Regions from separate parts of the Homo sapiens genome. Here region 2 is linked to region 1. Evidence: fine-mapped QTL for protein levels in blood plasma. A gene starts in region 1. The other region holds a variant in brackets. All regions are shown on one strand. Distances are from middle to middle.

Region 1 (8,303 bases):
ATGTGCTTTTTCTATAGCTTGGGGATGTTCCCTACAGTCTTAAAGCCCTGGCCAGCTTTCTCCGGCACACTCATTCATTCAGCAAATCTTACGAAGTACCTGCTCTGTGCCAGCTCCTACTAGACACTGAGATACCCAGGAGAGCGAGCTCCAGGCCTTGTCCCTGTAGTCAGTGCCATGGGGAATGGGAAAGCACCATGCAATGCATACTAGGAGATGGGAACACAGAGCTGGTGTTCCCAACCCAACCAAGGGAGCAGCTCACACAGGGGAAGCTTCCTGGTGGAAGTGAATTTAAGCAGAGGCCTGAAGAATGAATCGGAGTGAGACAGGAAAGTGGAGGTGGAAAGGGATTCTCAGAGGCAAGACAGTGCATGGGTGCACTGGAGAAATTTGTCAGAAAACAAGTGCTTTTCCTGGAGGTCTGAGAATCAGCAAGGCGAAACTGCTGCTCTGAAGGTCAACGCTGTAAGTCGATGTTGGATACCTGCTCTACATTCAGCCATGTGGAGGGTACAGAGGAATACCAGCGGGCTCTTTGCAATCAGAATGCTTGACGAGCACCATCCAACTTTGGAGCCCAGAGAACGAGGTTATCTGGGGAACCTCTGCCACTGAAGGCAGCTTCGTTGTGAACACCTCCAGCAGCCAAGACCTTTCTACCTCTCAAGGCAGCCACACCATCATAGCGAGAGTGATTTCCTTAAATTGAAAAAATGGCCTCTCTAATATGTCTCCCCCTGACCACCCTAGTTTTCCTTTTAGAGGTAGTTATACAAAAAAGGTCTAGAGCCTTCTCCATGCAATAGCCCCTCAAATATTTGAAGACGGTGCTCATGTTTCACCTCCACTCCAACTCGAATCTCTCCTGTTCATTCTTTTGTTTGTTTGTTTGTTTGGAGGCAGAGTCTTGCTCTGTCACCCAGGCCAGAGTGCAGTGGCTCAGTCTCGGCTCACTGCAACCTCCGCCTCCCAGATTCAAGCAATTCTCCTGCCTCAGCCTCCCGAGTAACTGAGATTATAGGCATTCGCCACCATGCCCAGCCTTTTTTGTTTTGTTTTGTTTTTTTGTTTTTTTAGTAGAGACGGGGTTTTGCCATGTGGCCCAGGCTGGTCTCGAACTCCTGACCTCAGGCAATGCGCCCACCTCGGCCTCCCAAAGTTCTAGGATTACAGGCATGAGCCACCGAGCCTGGCCTGTTTGTTTTTGAGATGGAGTCTCACTCATTCTGTCGCCCAGGCTGGAGTGCAGTGGCACGATCTTGGCTCACTGCAACCTCCGCCGGGAGTCTAGGGACCCTAGACTCCCTGCTTCTCCTGCCTCATTCTTCCAGATTCTTCCTCATTCTTCCTGATTCTCCCTCATTCTTCCTGATTCTCCTGCCTCAGCCTCCCGAGAAGATGGGACTACAGGTGTGCATCATCATGCCTGGCTAATTTTTGTATTTTTAGTAGAGACAAGGTTTCACCATGTTGGCCAGGCTGGTCTCGAACTCTTGGCCTCAAGTGATCAGCCCATCTCAGCCTCCCAAAGTACTGGAATTACAGGCATGAGCCATGGCGCCTGGCCTCCTTTCCATTCTTGAACATGTAACACAGCTGAAGTATCATAGTGGACAATGCCAAAATGCAGGCCAGACCACATATTCTGGAAGGACTTTGTTTTTAAGTTCGTTTGTTTTTTGAGACAAGGTGTCACTCTGTTGCCCAGGCTGAGTGCTGTGGTGCAGTCATGGCTCACCGCAGCCTTGATCTCCTGGGCTCAAGCAATTCCCTGCCTCAGGCTCCCAAGTAGCTGGGACTACAGGCATGTGCCACCACACCTGGCTAATTTTTTATTATTTATAGAGACAGTGTCTCACTATGTTGCCCAGGCTGGCTTTAAACTCCTGGACTCAAGCGATACTCCCTCCTTGGCCTTCCAAAATGCCGGGATTACAGGCATGAGCCACGGTGCCTGGCCTCTGGAAGGACTTTCAAAGTGAGATGTTATGGGCTGGAGTTATCAAGAAGGGCCATATCGCAGAAGAAAACTGTCTTGGTGAGATTCGAGGAAAAGGGAATTGGCTAAGGGAGTGGAAATGGCATTCCAGGAGGAGGATAGAGCCCCAACAAAGGCTTGTCTTTAATGCCGATTTGTTATGTTTAGTAACCTTGCTTTCCCTTAATATAAATTAGTGTATTTCCTATATTAACTTTAGGAAATGCAGATAAGCAAAGGGAAGAAAAGAAAAATCACCTACAATTCCACTACCACCCAGAGATAACGCCCCTAGTGTTTTCATCTATATCCATGAAGACACGCAGTTTGCTCTGCGTGTGCAGGTGTGCGTTTTAGCCAGGGTGGTACTGTACATAGGTTATGTTATGCCTCTTTTCACTTGAAAAAATATGATGAGTCTTTACCAGGTCACGAAACATTTTTCTCCAGCATTATTTTGGAAGCTGCATTTGTCTTGCTTTGGGTGGACATACCATTATTCTTTTAACCAAACCTCTATTGTCAGACATGGAGGTTGTTTTCATTTTTTTCTCCTTTTTTTTTTTTTTTTTTTTTTTTTTGAGACGGAGTCTCGCTCTGTCGCCCAGGCAGGAGTGCAATGGTGCGGTCTCGGTTCACTGCAACTTCCACATCCTGGGCTCAAGCAATTCTCCTGCTTCAGCCTCCCGAGCAGCTGGGATTACAGGTGCCCGCCACCATGTCCGGCTAATTTTTGTATTTTTAGTAGAGACAGGGTTTCGCCATGCTGCCCAGGCTGGTCTCGAACTCCTGATCTCAGGTGATCTGCCCACCTTGGCCTCCCAAAGTGCGAGATTACAGGCATGAGCCACCACGCCCCACCTATTTTTTTCTTAAACTGTTAGAAATGAAGTCTGGGTGTTCCCACATTCCTTAGCAATCCAGGTGTCTTCCTTCCCGTTAATTCCTACATAACCACAGGCCCTCGAAACTACAGGATGCCCTTTTCCTCCATCAAGTTCCTTCTTCCAGTGCTTCTGAGAGGCCCCAAGGAACACTTTCGTGTTCCACAGACCTGTTGGGGCTGCGTCTTGTCCTCTCGGCCAGCCACTTGGGACCAAAGCCTGCTCTTCTCCCTAAGCGTCCCTTGTAACCTGTTTTTCTCGCTGTAGCTTCCCCACACTGCCTTGTCATCAAAGTCATCAAAAACCCTCTATCCATCATGGTTCATTCAGTAGCACAGAAACCTCTCCAGTCTTTCAGACCAAGGGACTTTAATGTAAAGGAGCTCGTCACCCAGAGGATGAAGGAGCTGGGACACTAATCAGGACAGACAGTTCAGAGATTTCCCCAAAGCAGGAAGCTGTGCCATCCCACCAACTGAAAGGAAAGATGAGGGGAGAAGGTGTTGCCAGAGCCAGGAGCTGGCCTCCAAACAGGAACAAGAAAGACATAAGGGGTTGCCTGGCTGATGGACTGTCCAGAGGGAGCCAGAACTGCAGAGGGATATGGCCATTGCTGGGGAAGCCACTCAAACAGAAAACGAGGGGAGAAATGCTCTGATCTCTGCCTCCCCAGTCTTCCCCCAGGGGCTAAACCTATCAGAAAGCAGTTGATAAAGGAGTCTAGAAAATGTAGTTTCCTGCAGTTTCAGGAAATGACTGGCATGGGCCCTACCTTAATTCCTCCAAAGCACAGCTTAGATTTGGCTGTTTTGTCAAACAAACTTTAGCAATCAGGGCTGATAACAATTACAATTCAGGAAAGAAAAACTTAAACACCGATCTCAGCATATCACAGCCCATTACACCCAACCCGTTGGCAGGATCCCTGCTAAAATTTCGCTTGCCTTTGTGTGCTTGGGGCCAGGCAAACTCTCCCCAGGGGCAGGACCCTCCAATCGTGTCCACCCTGACCAGAGTCCAGGCCCCAGGGCCCTTCTACCTTCTCCAGGCCCTGCAGGAAGGAGAAAACCATTTCCTAAACACCTGTCCCTTCATTCACACGAAGCTCATGTGCAGATCCTGCCCTACGTGGCAAAATGATGGGAGAGCAGCCTGAATCTTCATCGTCCCGAACCAAAGCCCCATTCATGAAGTTCAGCCCCATCTCTAGCACAGCAGAAAGAATCACTGAAGTTTGAGTTCCATTTTTTTTCTAAACTTTTGCAGATCCTAGACCCAAAGGCTCAAGGTAAGAGCGGCTGGGCTTCCTCACCCCCAACGGCCTCTCTAGGGGAGAGCTGTTCCCAAGCCCACCCCAAGCGTGGGGACCTGCCTTGATATGGAGGATCAAGGAGGAGCATCGGGTGCCCTCAATCTCCTCCTGCCAGAAAAGCAAAGGAGTCACAGCTTTTCCTTTGCTGCAAGAAACATTCTGGGACCTTTTTTTTCCCCCTCTGTTGTCCAGTTATTTTCATCAGGGTAAATCCCCTAGGAATAGAATTATTAAAGCAAAAGATATGTATGTGGTGTAGGCTTTTGATCCACAGTGCCAAATTGCTTTTTGATAAGGCTGCATATCGTGGATTATTCTTGCCTTTTCTGCCCCTCAGCTCCTTGATAAACCACTTGGGATGAATCAGCCACCGGACCAGATAAACAAGCCAGCCTGTTACTATTGCTGTTTTCTGCAAGTCGGAAGGGAACTCCCTTAGATCCCGCCCAGAACCTGGAATTCCAGAGCACACAGGGCCAGGACACCTTTGTACCCCTGCTCCCCACCGGCACAGGTCCCACCCACCCCCTTCTCCCCGCCCCATGCCCGGGTGGAGCCAGCTGCCAGGGCGCCAAGACTCCCAGCCCTCTCTCTGTGCACGGCAGAGTAGAGGCCAAGGGAGGGCTCTGTGCCAGCCCCGATGAGGACGCTGCTGACCATCTTGACTGTGGGATCCCTGGCTGGTGAGTGCCCATCTACCCTGTGGTCAGACCTCCCTTATCCCAGGGGCCAACGATCAGGGTCATCTCCCCAGCACCCTCCCCAGCCCGAGCATAGCCAGTTTCAGTTTCTCCCCTGCTAGGGCTGAGCAGGGTGCCGGGTGTTCACGGAGAAGCAAATGCCCAGCTTAGTTTGCTGGGGGCATGAGAGGGTGCCTCAGACCCTGGGTTCTTCCAGGGACCCAAAGGACCCTCGGGTCTTGAGGGATATAGCCAGCTGTCTGAACTGGGGGTGCTGGATCGCTGCACCTCAGTGAATGGAGAATTGGCCTGGAGGAGGCAGACATCCTTCGGTCCCTCAAACGGTGTCGGCACAGTTTGTACCATCCTTCCTCTGCCTCTCACTTGGCACTGGCCTGACAGGGGAGGAGGAGGAAGGACCGGGGGAAACGAAGCTTGAGTTCACTATTGCCTCCCTCCATGCCCCTGCAGGGCCTCTTTGGCCCCTTTTGTTATCATAGATCTGAAAGAGCATTTTCTCCTAGAGTGGCCAGGTCTGCTACATTAATAGGTCTTAAGACACAGGACTCATTTGGAAACAGGTCTTAAGGGCATAGTGTTCAAAGCCAATAAAGTGAGCGGAGTGGGGGGCTCATCATTATGGAGAACGTTACATGAGACCCTAGACTCTCTCTCTGCTCTCCTGGTGCATTGCATGAAATTCAGGGAACTTCCTTAGGAAGTCAAAGCATAGTCCTGATTGAGGATGGCGAGCAGGTATGGCCTCGGCCAGGCCCTCCTTGCTCAAGTGCAGGACGAGGCCCACGAAAAGGCAGAGCTTCCCACCTTCTCTGCCACTGTCCCGCCAGGGCTGCCTGCGTCTCCAGGGCTTCCAGCTCTGTGGGACCCCCTCCAGTCTGCTTCCCAGCATCAAGCTGGGCGTTCCAGGAAGATGTGAGGCACCCCCTTGAGGCACCAAGACACGTCCCTTTAGACCCTCAGCCATACTGGTTAGAAATCCTAGAGGCTCCCAGCCCTTTGAGATGGGGGACCCCAAGAAATAGCCCTTAGGAGATTGTCAAGGGTCAGCTGCCTCGCGCTGCACACACCGGGCCCTCACCCCCCCAATCTTAGGCTGACTCCAGAGCATGTGGAATTGTTTCTTGTTTGTGTATTTTTCCTTAGCTTCCCAGCTGGTTGACAGAACATTGTTTTTCCACATGAATGTGAAAAAACAAGTTGCCTTTTATAAATCCGCCAGGCTGCCAGGCTCCACACAACACATGTCTCCCCAGATTTCACAATATAGACTTTCACCCGGGAAGTGCCGAAGCAACACAGGCTGAGGAATGGATGATAGATTTGAGGAGGAAAAGGAGCGAGGAGGGTGGGAGAAGAGGGGGAGATCTTGTTAGACCCTGACATCCCTAAAAGACAGGAGTGGGCCTAGGTTCACTTACCCCACTTCAGGAAGCTAACTGCAGTTCCCTCCTGAAAAGTGGTGCCAACCTCCACGTAGCCCAGGGTCCTTTGCCTTGGCAACATGCCCCCACCTCAGCCACCAGCCTCCTTGCAACCCAGATGGGCCCTCTATTTCCCACCCAGAACACTGACCTCAACCAGCAACCGTTCCCGCTGCAGACTCTACCCCAAGCCTTGATGGAGCCTGGCTTCTCAAAGCCCACCCTCACCCTTCTGCCCTGACCCACCACCCAACCAGAAGCCACTGTTCAGGTCTGACCTTGACTGGACTCCTTTCCTCAACTTTAGACTCAGCCCTGAATCCAGGACCCCTCCCTCCAGAACTGACCCCAATTCCACCCAGCCTCACATCCAAACAAGATGTCAGCTACATCCTAAGGCTCCACGGCACAGCCGTCACCTTGCGTAGAGGCAGTAGACCCCTCCCCGCGCCATCCCTAAGGCCCCATTCTGGGGACTCCAGGAAGCCTGAAGACATTTTGCAGCTGCTGGGCCAGAACCCAAATTCAGAGAGGAGGGCAGCCTTCGAGGTTGGCCAGAGGATGTGCAGCGGGGTCGGACCATTCTTCCGTCCCCATCGGTCCTCGCCAAGCCTGAGGACCCCTCTTGTGTGTAGAGTTGGAGTAGGGGAATCAATAACTGTCTGCTCCCTCACACCTTGGGCCCACTGGCAGTCGTAGACGTGTCTGGGGAAGGAGAGGCACAGACATATTCAAGACACACACCCAGGCCGCAAGGCCTTGACCCAGCTGGGGTTGCTTAACATTTTCCCACCTGTTTATTTCCCACGCCAGCCGGCCAGGGCCTCCGAGCTCCGAGCCAGCTGCCAGCTTGGGCCGCCATTTTCCCGCAGGCTCTTGCTCTCCACAGCCCAAGCCTGGGGGCCTGAGGGAAGGGTTTTATAAGTTAAGGACTCTTTGTTTACAGTGCAGATTGCTTTAGAGGCTGCAGCCCCTCCCCAGCCCCTTCCTTGAGGCTCAGGCCCTCACTGCCCTTCCCTTAACAGAAGCAGAAGTGGGCTGGACAAAGACCTAGCCTGGAAGAGAGGGCTGTGGACTCTTCAATGGCCAGCTTCTCTTCTCCTCTCTCTTCTCCTCCTCCCTAAATTCATCCCTTTATCAGGTGCTCAGGTCCCTGAAGCCCCCCACCCTCATATAAAAGGGTGAACAAGATAGCCCCCTCCCTACAGAGCGAATGTCTTCCCTTCCCAGGTCTCCTCCCTTCAGACTCAACACATGTACATAGGGGCCTGTTAGACACTAAACACATTCACAGACGCCAACCCGCTCTATCCGCCCCACAACCAGTCTAGCACTGGGATGAATATTGTAGGTTCTTCACATGCTAACTGTGATGCTGGGCGGCAGCTCTCTCTGAGCCTCAGCTCATTCATCAAATGGGGATAGTGATAGTGGGCACGTTGTCGTGAGGATTTAATGAAGGGAGGGACTTGCCTGAAAGAGGCTGTGCACTTCACAAATGCCAGTGGCTGCTGTTGTCATTGTTGTTTGTCTTTCGGTAAATCAAACTATATCCATTTTAGAGATGAGGCAATTGAAGTTCTCGTTGCTTAAACAACTTTCCCAAGGCCACCCTGCCCACGTGTGGGCTCAGTCAAGAGCGCCTCCTCCACCATTGCTTCATCTGATCAACTTGGGGCAAGTCACTTCTTACACACTTTAGTTACATATCTCTAAAATAAGGGTGAGGACACCAACTTCAGGTTGTGTTAAAAAGTGAATGAGAGACAATACCAAGCATCAATGGCGATGTGGAGAAACTGAACCCCTCAAACAATGCTGGTGGGAATTTAAGATGGTGCAGCCATAACATCCTGGACAATATATGAGACCCCATCACTACAAAAAATTTAAAAATAAATTAGACGGATGTGGTGGTGCATGTCTGTAGTCCCAGCTACACAGGAGGCTGAGGTGCGAGGATTGCTTAAGCCCAGGAAGTCGAGGCTGCAGTGAGCCATGATC
Region 2 (8,321 bases), 20 kb after region 1:
AGGAGGAGCGAGCAAGCTTCCTTGGGCTCTATGTGGAGATCGGTGTGTAACAGGAATCACATTCCATTCTCTGTCCAATTCAGCACCTTGGAGGGAAGCAGAGAGAATATGAGTTCTTCGGCCTGACCCCTGACACAGAGTTCCTTGGCACCATCATGATTTGCGTTCCCACCTGGGCCAAGGAGAGTGCCCCCTACATGTGCCGAGTGAAGACACTGCCAGGTGAGTTCGGCTGAAACCAGAGGGAGGTGGGGCTCCCGAATTCAAGTCTTGACTCTTCTCTTTCCTCCCTGTAACCAAGGTGAGACTTGGCAACACTCTAGAAAACCATGGAAGGGTTATCAGTGTGTTATTGAAGTCAATCTTTGTTTATCCATAAAAGAGTTGGCTGATGAGTTATCAAAGCAAATGTTTGATTCTCACCCTCCAGCCTATGTCTGGATTTCCCCTCTCTGACAGGCCTTATGTGTACCTTGGCAAAGCAAACTCACCTTAATATTAACCCAGGTGAGATATACTGGAGGGAAAATCTGCAGGGGGGAAGCAGAGAAGATAAAAAGATCCCTCAATATCTTCCAAAGTCAAATAATAATAATGGTATCATGATAACTAGCATTTCTGCAGTGCTAACTGGGAACCAGGCACAACCAAGGGCAAGCCTCATGAGCAGTCTATGAGGTAGGTATTATTTTCATCCTCATTTTACAGATGAAGAACCTGAGGTTCAGAGTGGTTAGGTAACTTGCCCATGGCCGGGCACAGTGGCTCACACCTGTAAACCAAACACTTTGGGAGGCCAAGGCAGGAGGATCACTTGAGCCCAGAAGTTTAAGACCAGCCTGGGAAACAGGGCAAAACCCCATCTCCACAAAAAAATCAAAAACTTAGCTAGGTATGGTGGCGTGCATCTGTGGTCCCAGCTACACAGAAGGCTGAGGCAAGAGGATCACTTGAGCCCAGGAGGTTGAAGCTGCAAAGAGCTATGTTTGCACCACTGCACTCCAGCCTGGATGACAGAGTGAGACCTTGTCTCGGAAAAAAAAAAAAAAGTGACTTGCCCAAGGTCACACAGGTGCTGAGGGATGGAATGAGGCCTAATTCTAGAGGCCATGCTCTTACCACAGAGCTACTATAGATACAGTTGGGTTTTTTGTGGGTTTTTATTGTTTTTTGTTTTTGAGACAGAGTCTTACTCTGTCACTCAGGCTGGAGTGCAGTGGCACAATCTCGGCTCACTACAACTTCTGCTTCCCAGTTTCAAGAAATTCTCCCACCTCAGCCTCCCAAGTAGCTGGGATTACAGGTGTGTGCCACCATGCCTGGCTAATTTTTTTTTTTTTTTTTTTGTATTTTTAGTAGAGACGGAGTTTCATCCTGTTGCTCAGGCTGGTCTTGATCTCCTGGCCTCAAGTGATCCACCCACCTCAGCCTCCCAAAATGCTGGGATTACAGGCATGAGCCATCACGCCCAGCCTAGATATAGTTTTGAATCATCTGCTCAGTGAGATGGTCCCTTCCTCTAGCACACTGAAACTTGATTCTCATCACAAGCATCATGATGTTTTTATTAGTGTTTCTTTTCATAGACGGAGGGAAACGTTGTATTGCTCAGAGCTGCAGGTTTAGAGGATGAAGGTGACGGCAGTGGATGTGATAGATTTGGTAAAACAGTCTCCACTTTATCCTCATGTTCAGATTCATGATGTCAGTAAGTGATTTCAGTTCCAACCATGCCAACATTCAGAATAGAGTTGAGTTTGCAAGCTGGACATTGTGTGTGGCATAGTGGAAAGAGAAGTACCGTGTGAGGAATGAGAAGGCACGGTATTAGTCAGATGTCAGCCAACCACGTGCCTGGGGGAGTCACTCAGCCTCTGGGAGCCTGATCCCTCATCTGACAAATAGGGATGCTGATGCCTGGGCTGAGGTGATAATCAGAGGCCAGGCAGCTGCCAGAGCTGGGCCCTAGAAAATGACACTCTGGTCCTCAGGTTTGTTCGGAAACTCATCACTTTTCCAAACAGCCCACAAGAGACTGATTTCTCCACCTGAATCCCAGTGCACCAATTGGCAGGGGAGCTATGCCTCACGGAACAGCCAACACTGGCCACTTGCATGGGGCATGCCCTTCCTGGGGCAAAGGCTGCTAGGGAGCTCAGAATAGAACTTGGCAAGAGGAGAACTAGAAAAAGGAAACTGACGTTCTGGGGCTAAGCTGGGAGTGTTTGTATGATTCATGACCCCCTTCCCTGGACTGTCCTAGATAAATCTCAGCTGCTCCTGGCCCATGGGACCTGGCCCACCAGCTTTTTGACAATGTGAAGACCACTCCACCCTTACCCACAACACCCTTCTGTTGCCTTACTTTGTCTTGCTTATAATGAGATACCATTTTTTCCTAAGACTATAGCTTTTATATAAATCACACTTCCTGGTGGCTACTTCTTGCTGACATATAGAAGGCACCTTATCCTTAAAAATATATTTAAAACAATTCCTACATTTATTAGGTTCTACTATATTGCCAAGCAAATAGTTGTGCCAAATGCTTTACATATATTATTTAATCTTTATTATTACATGTAACATATATTATTTAATCTTTACAACAATCCTGTAAGCTGGGTAGCATCATCCTCGTTTTACAGAGGAGGAACTCTGGCTCAGAGAGGTTAAGCAACTTCCCTGTGACCGCACAGCTGCTTGGGGAACCTGATTGATTCATCTGGTTCTGAAGGCTGGGCTCTACCCACCACTTTGCAACTTTGTTTACAGTGAGCCCCCTGTACTGCACACTTCTTCCTCCTACTTCCATTTCAGAGTGATGCATCCTGCCCTTGACTGTGTATCCTGACGTCTGCATTACCCTCAGAATCCCCTTTACCTACCTCTCCGTAGATAAACAGGGAGGGTCACAGAGCATTGTCCCAGCATCTTGATGACGGAAGAGGCTCTAAGGGCCACCTCACCTCATATCCTACTCTTACAGATGAGGAAACTGAGGCTTCCTTGCAGAGTGGCAGGGAGGATGAGTTTTGAGTTACACATGTAACTCCACTGAGTAGCTGTGTGACCTTGGTCAGGTCACTTAACCTCTCTGGGACTCAGCTTTGTTATCCATAGGAAGGGAGCGTCCCTACCCCTCTGTGATGTGTTTGATGATGTAGTGAGATAACATAGGTAGAGCACCCAGCTCTACATGATCATACAGATCATGGCCTGTAGTAGGAGTTCAACCACTGCTGGCTACTGTTATTATTAAAGGGTAGACCAGAGAGGGTCGTGCAGCAGGAAGGATGCTCAGCATATCTGTGGCAGAGCCAGGCCTCTAACACCCTGTATTCCTTACTCTCAGGCTGGTGGTGTTTTTATATTCCATCCAGCCTCCCTATGGGTGAAATGGCAATGTATCCAATACACACAGTGTGAAATGGAAATATGTCAAGCCAGAGACCATTCCATGTCCCTATTCTGTCCTGGAACAAACAGCAGTGGTTTTCCAGGAATGTTATAGACATTCGGGTGGGGTCTTTTTCCTGGAGTAGGGATGGGGGTAACATGTGACAGGAGACAGGGTTTCACTGAAGTGGGAAGCTGACCCAGAGAGGCCCAAGCTCGTGGGCTAGGGGAGGATCGAGGAGTGGGCTAGAAGTAGAGGTTCCAGCAGTACCCGGAGTTCACAGTGATCGCCGAGGTCATTGGAGCTATTGATAAACTCTCCAAGCTGAGGCTGCACAGGGGCCAGGAAGAGAGGGAGGGTGATTAGC[T/A]GGCCCCTGGACTGCAGGGGTCTTGACTCTCTGAGTCACCTTCCCTCTGTTGCAAACTGTCAGTTTTACCAAAAACTCCAACAACCTCTTCCTCCATAAGTCCTTCACAAGCCCCACTTGGACTGGTGACAGGAAGTGTGTCCTGCCTGGAACTGGCTGCACCCATCCCAAAGATGCTGAGACACAGGGAGAGGCTCAGGCACTAGAGCCCTAGTCATCCCTCTCCCCTCCATTTTAGACAGGACAGTGCCTTCCCAGGCTCCCTTCTTGACCAAGATCTTCCCTGATGCCCAGCCCCTTATCTTGGTAGGGAGGTGGAGAGGACAGGCCTCCCTGTTTTCACTTCTCCCCTCCCTCTGCCTCTACCCTACCAGGGAGGCAGGACCACCCTTAGACTCAGGCAAAAGGGGCCTTTCCCTGCACCCAGCACTTTAGAAGGCCCTTCTCTGGCCCTGTCCTGGCCATTCCCCTCCTTGCAAGATGAAGACTCCATACAACAAAGGGGGCAGATCCATCTGGATCCTGTGACCTCCTTTCTAGATCACATTGTGAGTACCTGGGACCCTGAAACTCTCTGTACATATGGCCCAGAGCCTGTGATCCGTCTAGGCAGTCCTCTTTTGGGGGTACTTCCTCATGAGGGCAGACACTGCTGACATGTAGTGCAGACCCTTGGCCCAAAGGATGACCAACAGGTGGCTATTTGGAGGGGACATGGATGAGCTCGACCATGAGGGCTGGGGCATCTATACACATGTGCGTGAGGGCCCTGGCAGTGTGGGATGGAACTGGGCTGGGCTGGGCTGGGCTGGGGGCCTGCAGTGCGCTGCGGGCTTTCCCTGTACCTCCCCACTTCAGCACAGTACCTAGAGAAGTCCAAGAACTCTGAATTAAAATATGGCATCCCAGGTGGTTGTAAAAAATCTTTTTGTTAAGGTGGAAACCTCGAACATTTTATTTATTTAACAGTGTAAAAATATAATTTGTAAATTCTGACTATTTAGATGTACAGTATATGGACTTCCATTTGTGATCTTGCATTCTGACGGTAGGAGAGGCCTTGCCAGCCCAGCCAGAGAGGGTTTTCAGCATCCACATGTGGGGCCAGACCCAACCGGGCCCAGGCAGAGCCCAGCCTCACGCTTCCTTCTCTGGCCCCTTTGGTTTCCCAGACCGGACATGGACCTACTCCTTCTCCGGAGCCTTCCTGTTCTCCATGGGCTTCCTCGTCGCAGTACTCTGCTACCTGAGCTACAGATATGTCACCAAGCCGCCTGCACCTCCCAACTCCCTGGTGAGCCATCCCCCCAGGGTGGGAGGGAGAGGTCCAGGGGAGGGCCTGGGCTCCGAGGTCCCCAGTTGTCCCCAAAATGCAGGGATCCACAGACAAAGCAGGAGATGGGCCTGCTCTCTCCATTCACGGAGCTCACAGTCCCAGCTAAAGTCAACGGACGTGTAGCCCAGCAGGTCTCAGGACACATTGAAGTGGGGTGGGTGATCAGGAATAGTAGACATGGAATAAAAAACCCACATGGCTTGGAAGTGTCCAGCACCAGGAGGGTAGTGTGGGACTTGAGTGAGCAGCAAGGCAACGAGGGAGGAATGGTGGGCGCCAGGAGAGCCGTGGCACTCATGCCCTGTCTAAATGGGCAGCCGGGCACCACCATGTGGGAATGCAGGCCCAGCACTGCCTGATCTTCATGTTTTTCAAGAGAAGCCAGAGTTTCAGATTATATTGTGGAATCTCCCAATTTTCAAATATTCAGAACTAATTTTTTAAACAGATTTTTTTTTTTTTGAGATGGAGTCTCCCTCTGTCACCCAGGCTGGAGTGCAGTGGCATGATCTCGTCTCAGCACAACCTCCACCTCCCGAGTTCAAGCGATTCTCCTGCCTCATCCTCCCAAGTAGCTGGGATTACAGGCATGCACCACCACCACACCTGGCTAATTTTTGTATTTTTAGTAGAGACGGGTTTTACCATGTTGGCCAGGCTGGTCTCAAACTCCTGACTTCAGGTGATCTACCCACCTCGGCCTCCCAAAGTGCTGGGATTACAAGCGTGAGCCACTGCACCTGGCCATTTTAAACAGAAATTTTTAAATGGCAAAACTAATTGTTAAGTGGAAAGCCCTTTGTTACAGTTCTTTTAGAATTGCTGTAGCAAGTGAAGACCAGAACCACCCCCCACCCAAAAAATAAAACCACCCCCCACCCAAAAAATAAAAATAAAATGGAAAGCCCTACATCAGCCACACAAATCACATCAGCAGCCCCCACCTGACGCCAGTGCCGCCTCTGCTAGAGCAGCAAGGCCACTGCAGAAGCCATGAGCTGAGCCACCTGAGGCACCCGGAGCCTGCTCTTGCCCATCGGAGGGACAGAGGAGCTCTGAGGGAGTTTTGCTCAATGTGCAAGTCCAGATGAAGCATTTTCTGTAAAGCTCTCCCGGTCTCTCCTGGCTCCTTCTTTTCCCACCCTGACCCTGTATTAGGCCCTCAGGGACCCGTGGGCCAAGCAACAATGCGGGCCACCACCTCGAGATCATGCCCCAAGGCAACCCCAAATCCTGGTCATCTACTCCCTGGATTATCCGCCTCCTGGAGAAACCAGAGCCCAGATCTCTCTCCCTGAGATAACCCAGGCTTTAGAACCAAAGAGCTGAGAGACCCTGTCCCTTCAGAGAGGCACTTGCACCTAGAGGAGTCTCTGGGAAGCAGATGGGGATATGGGACAGACGCATCTTGAAAAAGCCCCCAGATGCCTCCCTATGGAGGACCTCACCCACCCACATCACCAGTAGGGAGCTTGGGACTTACCCTAACCACAGGGGGGTGACTGTTGTCGTCCCTGCACAGAACGTCCAGCGAGTCCTGACTTTCCAGCCGCTGCGCTTCATCCAGGAGCACGTCCTGATCCCTGTCTTTGACCTCAGCGGCCCCAGCAGTCTGGCCCAGCCTGTCCAGTACTCCCAGATCAGGGTGTCTGGACCCAGGGAGCCCGCAGGAGCTCCACAGCGGCATAGCCTGTCCGAGATCACCTACTTAGGGCAGCCAGACATCTCCATCCTCCAGCCCTCCAACGTGCCACCTCCCCAGATCCTCTCCCCACTGTCCTATGCCCCAAACGCTGCCCCTGAGGTCGGGCCCCCATCCTATGCACCTCAGGTGACCCCCGAAGCTCAATTCCCATTCTACGCCCCACAGGCCATCTCTAAGGTCCAGCCTTCCTCCTATGCCCCTCAAGCCACTCCGGACAGCTGGCCTCCCTCCTATGGGGTATGCATGGAAGGTTCTGGCAAAGACTCCCCCACTGGGACACTTTCTAGTCCTAAACACCTTAGGCCTAAAGGTCAGCTTCAGAAAGAGCCACCAGCTGGAAGCTGCATGTTAGGTGGCCTTTCTCTGCAGGAGGTGACCTCCTTGGCTATGGAGGAATCCCAAGAAGCAAAATCATTGCACCAGCCCCTGGGGATTTGCACAGACAGAACATCTGACCCAAATGTGCTACACAGTGGGGAGGAAGGGACACCACAGTACCTAAAGGGCCAGCTCCCCCTCCTCTCCTCAGTCCAGATCGAGGGCCACCCCATGTCCCTCCCTTTGCAACCTCCTTCCCGTCCATGTTCCCCCTCGGACCAAGGTCCAAGTCCCTGGGGCCTGCTGGAGTCCCTTGTGTGTCCCAAGGATGAAGCCAAGAGCCCAGCCCCTGAGACCTCAGACCTGGAGCAGCCCACAGAACTGGATTCTCTTTTCAGAGGCCTGGCCCTGACTGTGCAGTGGGAGTCCTGAGGGGAATGGGAAAGGCTTGGTGCTTCCTCCCTGTCCCTACCCAGTGTCACATCCTTGGCTGTCAATCCCATGCCTGCCCACGCCACACACTCTGCGATCTGGCCTCAGACGGGTGCCCTTGAGAGAAGCAGAGGGAGTGGCATGCAGGGCCCCTGCCATGGGTGCGCTCCTCACCGGAGCAAAGCAGCATGATAAGGACTGCAGCGGGGGAGCTCTGGGGAGCAGCTTGTGTAGACAAGCGCGTGCTCGCTGAGCCCTGCAAGGCAGAAATGACAGTGCAAGGAGGAAATGCAGGGAAACTCCCGAGGTCCAGAGCCCCACCTCCTAACACCATGGATTCAAAGTGCTCAGGGAATTTGCCTCTCCTTGCCCCATTCCTGGCCAGTTTCACAATCTAGCTCGACAGAGCATGAGGCCCCTGCCTCTTCTGTCATTGTTCAAAGGTGGGAAGAGAGCCTGGAAAAGAACCAGGCCTGGAAAAGAACCAGAAGGAGGCTGGGCAGAACCAGAACAACCTGCACTTCTGCCAAGGCCAGGGCCAGCAGGACGGCAGGACTCTAGGGAGGGGTGTGGCCTGCAGCTCATTCCCAGCCAGGGCAACTGCCTGACGTTGCACGATTTCAGCTTCATTCCTCTGATAGAACAAAGCGAAATGCAGGTCCACCAGGGAGGGAGACACACAAGCCTTTTCTGCAGGCAGGAGTTTCAGACCCTATCCTGAGAATGGGGTTTGAAAGGAAGGTGAGGGCTGTGGCCCCTGGAC

Which allele goes with the higher level. Alleles are on the strand shown, and positions count from the first base shown. The strength of an association depends on the size of the effect and on how common the allele is.
For the plasma level of the protein whose gene starts at base 4,760 in region 1, T is the high allele of the variant in region 2 and A is the other (strong association).

Evidence for each region. PIP is the posterior inclusion probability: the model's chance that the variant is causal. Protein levels are from antibody-based Olink assays in UK Biobank. Linkage for the fine-mapping came from a reference panel and not from the study's own genotypes, which makes the PIPs less certain.
Region 2: its variant is fine-mapped to the plasma level of the IL22RA1 protein (UK Biobank, PIP above 0.99).

Annotation. Positions count from the first base shown.
Region 1 is chr1:24,139,597-24,147,899 of GRCh38, reverse strand. It overlaps IL22RA1 (interleukin 22 receptor subunit alpha 1), which reads left to right and starts at 4,760. Exons shown (of 7, transcript NM_021258.4): 1 at 4,760-4,860. The coding sequence starts at 4,818.
Region 2 is chr1:24,120,042-24,128,362 of GRCh38, reverse strand. IL22RA1 (interleukin 22 receptor subunit alpha 1) reads left to right here. Exons shown (of 7, transcript NM_021258.4): 5 at 84-222; 6 at 4,940-5,061; 7 at 6,626-8,321. The coding sequence ends at 7,558. Among named protein-coding and RNA genes, the nearest start is that of MYOM3, 12 kb to the right of the region's middle. RefSeq lists a silencer at 7,630-7,924. The variant T/A (reference allele first, on the strand shown) is at 3,768.